Regions from separate parts of the Homo sapiens genome. Here region 1 is linked to region 2. Evidence: fine-mapped expression QTL. A gene starts in region 2. The other region holds a variant in brackets. All regions are shown on one strand. Distances are from middle to middle.

Evidence for each region. PIP is the estimated chance that this variant, and not a neighbour inherited with it, causes the effect.
Region 1: its variant is the best candidate, but not a certain one, in a credible set for the expression of RFK in whole blood (INTERVAL, PIP 0.77).

What each region holds. Positions count from the first base shown.
Region 1 is chr9:76,350,426-76,355,802 of GRCh38, forward strand. PCSK5 (proprotein convertase subtilisin/kexin type 5) reads left to right here. Exons shown (of 38, transcript NM_001372043.1): 36 at 403-503; 37 at 3,608-3,794. Among named protein-coding and RNA genes, the nearest start is that of RFK, 41 kb to the right of the region's middle. The variant CA/C (reference allele first, on the strand shown) is at 2,463.
Region 2 is chr9:76,391,424-76,396,800 of GRCh38, forward strand. RFK (riboflavin kinase) reads right to left here and starts at 3,003. Exons shown (of 4, transcript NM_018339.6): 1 at 2,667-3,003; 2 at 995-1,146. The coding sequence starts at 2,748. It also overlaps a transcript of GCNT1 not described here. RefSeq lists enhancers at 2,274-3,087, 2,950-3,244, 3,422-3,661 and silencers at 2,452-2,941, 2,982-3,061, 3,082-3,141.

The DNA of each region.
Region 1 (5,377 bases), 41 kb before region 2:
CTCAGTTAGAAACTGTCTATTCATGATTTATGCACTGAGTATTGCAGTCCTCCAAACACTTGGTAACATCCTCCACACTAGTTAAACAATAAGCAGAATAGCGAATAAAGGTTTTATAAACTTTCTACATGATTTCTCATTCTCTGAAACTCTTTCCTCTTGCTGTAATAAAAGATCTGTCATCCCCAAATCCTCAATTTTCAGACTGAGAGTCTACATAGATTGAACTAATTGTATAATTTCTACTTTGTGTGGGAGACTTTTTTCTTTTTCGTATCCTCAATCAATTCACCCTTCTGCTTCAATTTACTTGACATATTCCTTGTTCCTAAGTGTTCCGGAACAAAGACAGAAGTTGAAATCTAAGGTCAATCTCATAACTTAGAATGTTTTCTCTTTCAGGAAAAGGAGCGTTGAATTGTTTATCCTGTGTGTGGAGTTACCACCTCATGGGAGGGATCTGCACCTCGGACTGTCTTGTGGGGGAATACAGAGTGGGAGAGGTATGGAGGGCTGGGGGTCCTGGGCCTTCTGCTCTTTCTAGAGGGAAACATGAGCTTACTTCCTGCATGTCATTCTGGGCAATCAAAATGTCCCAAAATTCTCATACTATAGAAATAGTGTATGTTTAGTATTTTAAAACCTTCTACCGTTGCATCATGGAATAATGGTGCTACCCACCTGTAGCCTTAGCTTTACTCAAAAGGAACTGAGAAGATCTAAGATAATGGGGAAGTTAAGTCGTGAGGGCCTCGGAATGAATTCTACATTTGTTATTCATCACCATAGAAGTTTCAGTCAACATAAGAATACTATGTCAGAATACAAACTACCTTCTCTCTTACTTCTGTCTGGTCTAAGCAGAAATGTGTGAGTAACATAGGAACCACACAGCTAATGTTGGTCTTTTGCTTCCTTTACCACTTTACAGTGTATTAAGAAGAATTCATTTGCAGTGTTACAGCTCTTTAGAATTTCTGGTTTCTACCAGAAACCGCCCCCCCCTGCAATGTGAAAGAAAGGAAAGAAAGAAAGAAAGAAAGAAAGAAAGAAAGAAAGAAAGAAAGAAAGAAAGAAAGAAAGAAAGAAAGAAAGAAAGAAAGAAAGGAAGGAAAGAAAGAGAAAGAAGAGAGAGAGAGAAGGAAGGGAAGGGAGGAAGGAGAGAGAGAAAGAAAGAGAAGAAAGAAAAAGAAAGAGAAAGAAAGAGAGAGAAAGAAGAAAGAAAGAGAGAGAGAAAGAAAGAAAGAAAGAAAGAGGTAGGGAGGGAGGAAGGAAGGAGATTCATTTGCCATGGATTTTCTGAAACCATGAATTTTTTTTTTTTTTCTTTGAGACAGGGTCTCACTCTGTCACCCAGGCTGGAGTGCAGTGGCGCAATTACAGCTCATTGCAGCTTTGACCTCCTGGGCTCAGGTGATCCTCCCACCTCAGCCTCCTGAATAGCTGGGACTACCATGTCACTGGTCTACACCACTTACCCAAAGTTAGCCTTTGGGTTGGGGGTTCCCTCGCTATTGTCACTTCTGTGGTCACCAGAAAGATGCTACTGGAAAGGGGTCCCAGTCCAGACCCCAAAAGAGGGTTCTTGGATCTCACACAAGAAAGAATTCAGGGCAAATCCATAGAGTAAAGTGAAAACAAGTTTATTAAGAAAGTAGAGGGATAAAAGGATGGCTACTGCATAGACAGAGCAGCTGTGAGGGCTGCTGCTTGCCCATCTTTATGGTTATTTCTTAATGATACGCTAAACAAAGGATGGATTATTCATGACTTCCCTTTTTAGACCATATAGGGTAACTTCCTGATGTTGCCATGGCATTTGTAAACTGCCACGGCGCTGGTGGGAGTGTAGCAGTGAGAACCATCAGAGGTCACTCTCATTGCCATCTTGGTTTAGGTGGGTTTTGGCTGGCTCTTTACTGCAAGCTGTTTTATCAGCAAGGCCTTTATGATCTGTATCTTGTGCCAACCTCCTATCTCATCCTATAACTTAGAATGCCTAACCATCTAGGAATGTAGCTCAGTAAGTTTCAGCCTTATTTTACCCAGCCCCTATTCAAGATGAAGTTGCTGTGGTTGAAATGCTTCTGACCACGATGCCCAGCTAATTTTTTGTATTTTTAGTAGAGATGGGGTCTCACCATGTTGCCCAGGCTGGTCTCAAACTCCTGGGCTCAAGCCATCCACCCACCTCAGCCTCCCAAAGTGCTAGGATTACAGGTGTGAGCCACTGCGCCCGGCAAGACCACAAATTTCTTGATTATGTTTTCGAACTTTAGATAATAAGTAAATCTCCCCATGATGAAATTAACACAAACTAACATATTTACATATGAGCACTCTTTAAATTCTGGCAACAGCCGTCATTACAGTTTAGAGAAACTGAGGCTCAAAGAGGTTAAACAATTTGTTAAAGATTACAGCCTGGGCAACATGGTGAAACCCCATCTCTACAAAAAATA[CA/C]AAAAAAAAAAATAGCTGGACATGGTGGCACATGCCTGTAGTCCCAGCTACTTGTGGGGCTGAAGCAGAAGGATCACTTGAATCCGATCACACCAGTGCACTCCAGTGTGGGCAAAAAAGTAAGCCCGTCTCAAAAAAAAAAATTATATGAGTGCTAAGTAACAAAGCTGGGATTAAACCTGAAGGATGAGATAATATGTGAGATGCAGGATTCAATGAGATAATAACAGCTGAGAAAGCACCTTGTCTGTGCCTGAAACATGCCAAGGTGCTCAACAAAAGCAATTTCCATTCCTTCTTCTTTTTCTGTCATACCATACTTCCAAAGTTACAGAAGTAAAATAGGAAAGCATCTTCCCTAACCCACATTTCCAGCACCAGTCAAGGAGCAACTTGTCGGGAGGGAAGCCACTTTCTTCTCATCTCTCCACTCTCTTCCCAAAGAGATTTAACTACTTGAGCTACACAGCCACAACCTATATTATTCTGCGGGCAGACCACAATAATCCAGTAACCACAGAGGCCAAGCAGGTCACTAACATAAATGCTGGGTCAAAGAAAACCACAGTGTAAGCTTGATGCTTGAAGGAAAGTGGAAATTGATGTATCACCTACATGTTGGTGACATAATAGCAAGTGCTGGGGATTATGTCAAATAGAAGAGTGGAAAGAGGGGTCATCGCCACGTGGGAGTGATGAATCCAGTGTTGACAGGTCTTCTAGTTTCTAAAGAGAAATTAGGAACAAATTTACATGTGAAATATCCCACTTTTGAGATGCGGGAAATGAATGCAAAATATTTTAAACTGAAAGTCAACAGTGTGGGCCAGACAAAACTAGTCCTTGACCTGAGCTGTCCTTGAGCACAGGAGCTGTCAGCTCCTAACCCAAACTGTTCTAGACGTCTGCTCTCCCACTGTTATTAGCAGATCTCAAAGGACAGGGCCCAGCCGTGATTCCACCCCATCACAGACAGTTGGTTCTTTCACCCAACACAGTTAAAATGGGCTTAGAACACACCATCCTTCTGCTGTCCCCCACACATCTCCCTCCTTATGAAGACAAGATGAGATACAATCTGGGAACTCCAGTGCCTTGTTAATCCCTTTACACTCAAAAGGAACCTCTTGATTGCTCTTAACAGGGAGAGAAGTTTAACTGTGAAAAATGCCACGAGAGCTGCATGGAATGCAAGGGACCAGGGGCCAAGAACTGCACCTTGTGCCCTGCCAACCTGGTGCTGCACATGGACGACAGCCACTGCCTCCACTGCTGCAACACCTCTGATCCCCCCAGTGCCCAGGAGTGCTGTGACTGCCAGGACACCACGGGTGAGGGAAGAGCAAGAGCAGCCTGCAGAGGAAGGGCATGTCCTCAAGAAGCCAATGGGAGCAGAGGGAGGGGGGGATGGAAAGTTCAGGAGAATCAATATGGCTACCTTTTTATTGAGTGCCTACTATGGGCCTACTGTACTTGAAACTTCATGACCATTGTCTCACTTCACAAGTAGGGATTATCAGTCCCATTTTACAGATGAGGAGACTGAGGCTCAAAGAGTTGGATTCGCATGCCAAGTCCATACCAATATTAAAAGTTTCATCTGGGGACTAGGCGTGGTGGCTCACGCCTGTAAATAATCCCAGCACTTTGGGAGGGTGAGGCAGACAGATGGCTTGAGTCTAGGAGCTTGAGACCAGCCTGAGCAACATGGCAAATCCCTCTCTACTAAAAATAAAAAATTAGCTGGGCGTGGTGGTGCATACCTGTAATCCCAGCTACCAGGAAGGCTGAGGTGAGAGGATCTCTTGAGCCCAGGAGGCAAAGATTGCAGTGAGCTGAGATCGCACCACTGCACTTCAGCCTGGGTGACAGAGCAAGATGCTGTCTAAATTTTTTTTTAAAAAATGGTTCATCTGGAATTAGATTTTCTGCTTGCCTCCAAGACTAGAACTCAAGTAGAGCTAGCATTTTATCTTTATGAATTTACTTTGTTCCTTTTTTTATTCTTCCCTCTTGGGAAAAAAAGAAAAGAACTAACTATCAAGGAAGCTGATGTCAATATTATCCTGATTCTGTTGAAGAATCATTCTATGAAAGTCAGCCCAAACCTAGGCCTCTCAGAGACTTATGACATTTTAGAAATGAATTTTTATTGAAGGCTAAGAAGTAAAACCCCCTTTACCAATTTCCAGTCCCTCAGCTATCCTCACGTCTAACCCCATCCATGTGGGTACTTGGTTCTCATTGGTCACAAACTTAGAAAGATCTCAAACTGACTGATTCCTTCTAAAAAAAGAAACATGGCCGGGCGCGGTGGCTCACGCCTGTAATCTCAGCACTTTGCGGAGCCAAGGAGGGCGGATCACAAGGTCAGGAGATCGAGAACGTCCTGGCTAACATAGTGAAACCCTGTCTCTACTAAAAATACAAAAAAATTAGCCAGGCGTGGTGGCGGGCGCCTGTAGTCCCAGCTACTCAGGAGGCTGAGGCAAGAGAATGGCGTGAACCCGGGAGGCAGAGCTCGCAGTGAGCCAAGATCGTGCCACTGCACTCCAGCCTGGGTGACAGAGCGAGACTCCGTCTCAAAAAAAGAAAAGAAAAGAAAAAAAAAGAAACATATATTCTTAAAATATACTCTCTAGTCCAGAAGTAGATAATTTCCTTGGGGTTCAGAAGTGACATTCACTGACAAAAAGCGATGCCATATTTGTGAGTTGGTCTATTTGTAAGTAAAGAAAATCCCAGACCCATAACTGCTACCAGCCATTTCTTTTTTATTTTTGATTAGCATTTTCTTTCTTTCTTTCTTTCTTTTTCTTTTTCTTTTTTTGTTTTGACAGAGTGTGGCTCTGTCACCCAGGCTGGAGTGCAATGGCACAATCTCGGCTCACGGCAACCTCTGTCTCCTGGGTTC
Region 2 (5,377 bases):
GGAAAGAGAAAAGCACCAATGTGGGACTGTATCAATAAGCACCATCCTCCATCCACCATCCATGTAGTAAACTGTTTTATCTTAAGAGGGTGACCAAGCGCAATTGATGCATGAAGTAAATGGTGAATGAAGTGCATTAATTGTGGCAAGCTCAATTTTATGAAACAGGCTTTTAAATCATTTTTATCTTTGGTCAAGTGAGTCTTTCACAGACAGCAATTATCAAAGTCAGTATTATAATTTTGGTTTGTAACTCCACTCTTTATTTTCTACATAATTTAAAAAATAAATGCATAAAAAAACCAATTATTAATCTTTGTTATTGGGTACCACAATGTATAAGGATGTAATCTGAGCCAGATGCAGGCAGTGGCATGTACCTATAGTCCCAGCTCTCTGGAGGCTGGAGGAGGATTACTTGAGCCCATGAGTTTGAAGCTACAGTGTGCTACAACCTGGCCTGTGAACAGCTACTGCACTTCAGTCTGGGCAACATAGTGAGACCCCATCTTTAAAAAAAAAAAAAAAGATGCAATTTCTGAGTTCTGTATGCTATTGAAATTAAGTTGGTATAAACTCAAATTAAACTTTTAGAATTTCAGGATGTTAAATATAAACCCCATGGTAACCACAAAGACAGTATCTATAGAAATACACAGAAAGCAATGAGAAAGGAATTAAAATGTCACTACAAAACAAAACAAAACAAAAAGCACACTACCACAAAAGGCAGTAATAGAGGAAATGAGGGACATAAAAGTTATAAGGCATATAAAAAACAAATAGCAAAACAGTAGATGTCCCTCCTTATCAGAAATTACTTTAAATGTAAATGAATTAAACTCTCCAATTAAAAGACAGAGATTGCCCAAAATTCCAGTATTTGAACTACGTTGTGATTACCACTGATAAGCTATTTCTGTAACGAATACTGTAATATATTATTCTAAGTCATCATACCATTTTCGGTTACAGAGCAAAATATAATGCTTACCATAGACTTCTTCGTATTCTTGTAATATGGGTTCCATCCTATGCTCACCACCATCTTATGGACATCTCCACTTCCAACACTGGCCCAACCATAGTAAATACCAGTGGATATATCAGCTGGAAGATTATCTACCACTTGCTCAGGAAAATTAGCTAAACAACAGAAGAAAATATTTTGAGTCTTACAAATTTCGTATTAAATGCCTGTAGCCGAGTGCAGTGGCTCATGTCTGTAATTCTAGGACTTTGAGAGGCCAAGGCAGGAGGCTCATGTTGAGCTCTGGGGTTTGAGACCGGCCCGGGTAACATAGTGAGATCTTACCTCTATTAAAAAATTAGCTGGGGATGGTGGCCTGCACCTATAGTCTAAGCTACCAGAGAGGCTGAGGCAGGAGGGTCAGTTGAGCCCAGCAGATGGAGGCTGCAGTAAGCTATGATCGCACTACCACTGCACTCCAGCCTGAGTGGCAGAGCCAGATTCTGTCTCAAAATAATAATAAGAAACAAACATTTGTAAAAATCACATGCAAGGCTAATGTAAATCATTACATTCACAAGACTCCTACAACTTTGCCTGTAAGTATCAATCCCATCCTTCCATTTTCCGGCTCAGATTTCCCTCTCCTATTCATGTGAATAGGTTATGAATAAAGTACCAGGTAAGTATATAAAGCTCTCCAAAAAAATCCATACTCTTTGAGTAGGATGCAAAAAACAAGTACCAGAGTAGATGGATTTTTTCAGATCTGTTCTTTCCTAACCAGGTACTGAATCACCTGAAAAGTTTCTTTCTTTTTTTTTTTTTTTTGAGACGGTGTCTCACTCTGTCGCCCAGGCTGGAGGGCAGTGGCACGATCTCGCCTCACTGCAGCCTCCGTCTCCTGGGTTCAAGCGATTCTCCTGCCTCAGGTTCCCGAGTAGCTGGGATGACAGGCACGCGCCACCATGCCCAGCTAATTTTTGTATTTTTAGCAGAGACGGGGTTTTACCATGTTGGCCAGGCTGATCTCGAACTCCTGAGCTCAGATGATCCGCCCGCCTCGGCCTCCCAAAGTGCTGGGATTACAGGCGTGAGCCACCACGCCCGGCCAAAGCTTCTTATTTTTCAAATACACAAGCTCAAGGCTGACTTAACAAGTCAAGACGCAGCTCTGGCATGTATTTCTAAGGATGAATTACAGTCAGGTCTCGATTATTGAAATTAATGTAGACAGACCAAGAAGGTTAGCTGACTCTCATTCAACTACCTATGTTATCATTTGGACATTACATAATTACAAATTAAAAACAAAACCACCTTAGACCCGGCTTGCGAGTTCAGCCGTTCTGGCCCACGTTACGTCTCTAATGGGCAAGACAAGCGCAATGCTTGACCAACTGTACCTTGGCTGGCCAAGGAGGCGTGAACGGGGAATCCTGCGATTCATCTCGGGCTTCCGGCCCTCACCACCCCTCAACCCCGTCCCCGCGGAGCTCGGAGCCAGAAGCAGGGACAAGCTCCCTCAACCGAGCCAACGGTCCTCCGCCACAGACAAGGGGATGCGGGAGGAGGAAGGGTGTGCTCTCTGCCCGCGGTCCGGAGGCCCCACGCCCCGGTCCCAAGTCCCCGGCTGCCGTCTCTCCCCGCTCCCCACGTGACCCGGCCCGGGGGACTCTGGCCGCCCTGCTCTCACCTGTGGGGATGCCCAGCTGCTTGGAGCCGCGGCCGAAGCCCCGCACCACTTGACCCCGGCAGAAGTAAGGCAGGTGCCTCATAATGCAGTCCGCTCGGGGAATGGGCTGCGGCCCGGTCTGCGCGTCCTGCGGAGCCGCCGTCGACGCGGCGCCCAGACCCCGGACCAGCCGGGGGACAGGAGCGTGAGCTCTGCCTGCCGCGGGGGCGCACCAGTGGCCGGACGACGCCGACCACAGGCCACTGCGAATCCCTGACGCCGCCGACCCAACAAATACCGCCGGGCGCCTGAGGAGCTGCGTCTCCGCTGGAGGGCAGCGGAGACAGCCGAAGTAAGTGCCGGGTGTGAGCGGGGTGGGGGGAGGGGGCGGCCCGAAGCGCAGAGCCGGCCTCCGCGCCGCCGGCGTGCGCTCCCTTCCTCAGCCGAACGCCTCGAGCCCGCTCGGCTTCCGTAGCCCCGCCCCATCATGGCCCCGCCCCGCCGCTGCCTCGCCCGGCTCCCGCCGCAAGCTCCCGCTGCAGGCTCCCGCCCCAGGCGCCTAATGTCTGGATCCCGGGCTTCGTTTCAGCCCCTGGCGATGGGAACTAATGTGGAAACCCCGTTTTCAGCCTGAGAGCCGCGAAAGCACAATTCTCGAACAATTCTGGTTTTTTTTTCTCCTTCCTCCTGTTCATAACAATCCGGAAGCCAAAGTGAGACGCTCTTTAGCTCCTTGGCAACCGCTGGGTTGAACGTCAGGCATCGCTCGTTCCGTTCGCTCTTTAAGTATTTATTAAAGCTCCAAAATTCAGCTCAAAGATCGCCTCTTCACAGAGGCTTTTCCTGGCCGCCCTACCAGAAGCGGTCGTCCTCCAGGACCACTGACCACGTTCTGGAGTTATTAATATATTCGAATGTAAGCTCCAAGGGAGAAGTCCCTGTCTGTGACGCTGTTAACCCCAGAGACTAGTGGAAGGTTACCGACATGGGCGGTGACTGTCCCCTCCAGGCTGTCTTCTTGACAATTTCACAAGCCCGATAACAGGCCGTCCCTCTACTGCAATGCAGATAGAGGCCTTCGTACCCTCGGAACTGTAAATACGCACGCTCCTAGGGAAGTAGCTCTGGGCTCACTCACAGGATATGCAGGGTGCAAGGTTATAAGAAGGTGCATCCTCTTAACGTCTCGAAGACAAAGAAGTTTTTTATTTATTTTTTTAAATTTTTAATCAATGGAATCCAGAGAAGTTTAATTTTTTTCTTTTTTGCTCTATACATTTGTATAAAATTCTGTGCAGACCGTGTAGTCTCTTTCTACCTTACATGTATGCATCTCTGATAAGATTTACCTGATATTAAATTTATGTTCTAGGCCAGGCTTGGTGGCTCACGCCTGTATTCCCAGTAGTTTGAGAGGCCGACGCGGGAGGATTGATTGAGCCCAGGAGGTCGAGGCTGCACTGAGCTATGATAACGCCACTGCACTCCAGACTGGGCGACACAGTGAGACACCCTCACCCCTTAAAAGAACTAGAGAAGAAGAAGGAAGGGAGGGAAGGGAAAGGAAAGGGGAAGGGAAAGTGAAAGGGAAGAAAAGGGAAGGGAAGGGAGAGAAGGACCCAAAGAAGCAATTATGGTCAGTTACTTATCTATACGGAATTAAACAAAGAATAATGAGAATAACGATAATAGTAATACCGGTAGTAAGAGTAGTAATAGCAAGTTGTGAAAAGCAATTAAGTTATCTGGAGAGGCTTAAGAGTTATTTTAGCAAGGTGTGTACAGGATTCTCTCACTCTTGACTCCCGTCCTTAATAAGAGTGCTGCATTCCTTCTAATATAGGGAGGATGTCTCTCATATGGTAATTTCATCTGCTTCTAAGAAACAGAAAAGAGGTCAGAATGATTTTTTTGTATCTATTGTTTTTCAAGTGCTTTTAATTCAAAATAGTCAATATGCAAGAATGGTATATTTTTAACTTCATCAGCAGTGATACACCTAATAAGAAAAGCCTGGAGGTGAGAACTTGATAAATCATCCCTGGGTCTTACGCCACTAAGCCCTAGGTTGCAAGAAGGTATGAGAATTAAATGAGATAAAATAATTAAATGAATCATAGGAGGTAAATGAGGAGGGGTGGTTTTAAGAATAGAGAAAATGCTAAGTATTTTTCACACTGTCTCATGTAATCCTCTCATCAGCTTTGTTGGAAAGCATTAACCTAAACGTATAAAAATGGGCGGGGCATGGTGGCTTACGCCTGTAATCCCAGCACTCTGGGAGACCGAGGTGAGCGGATCTCTTGAGCTGAGGAGTTCAAGACCAGCCTGGGCAAAATAGGGAGACTTCCGTCTATCCAAAAATTTTAAAATAAAAATAAGTAAGAAAGAGAGAAAAAAGAAAGAAAAGAAAAGAAACAAGAAAAAAAAGAAGAAAGGGGAAAGAAAAGAAGAGGAGAAAATAAGAAAGAAAATTTTAAAAATCAGCCAGGGCCTGGCACAGTGGCTCATGCCTGTAATCCCAGCACTTTGGGAGGCTGAGGCCGGTGGATCACTTGAGCTCAGGAGTTGGAGACCAGCCTGGGCAACATGGTGAAACCCCGTCTCTACAAAAAATACAAAAATTAGCCGGGAGTGGTGGCGCTCACCTGTGGTCCTAGATACCCTGGAGGCCGAGGCACAAGAGTCGCTCGAACCTGGCGGCAGTTGCAGTGAGCTGGAGATCACGCCAC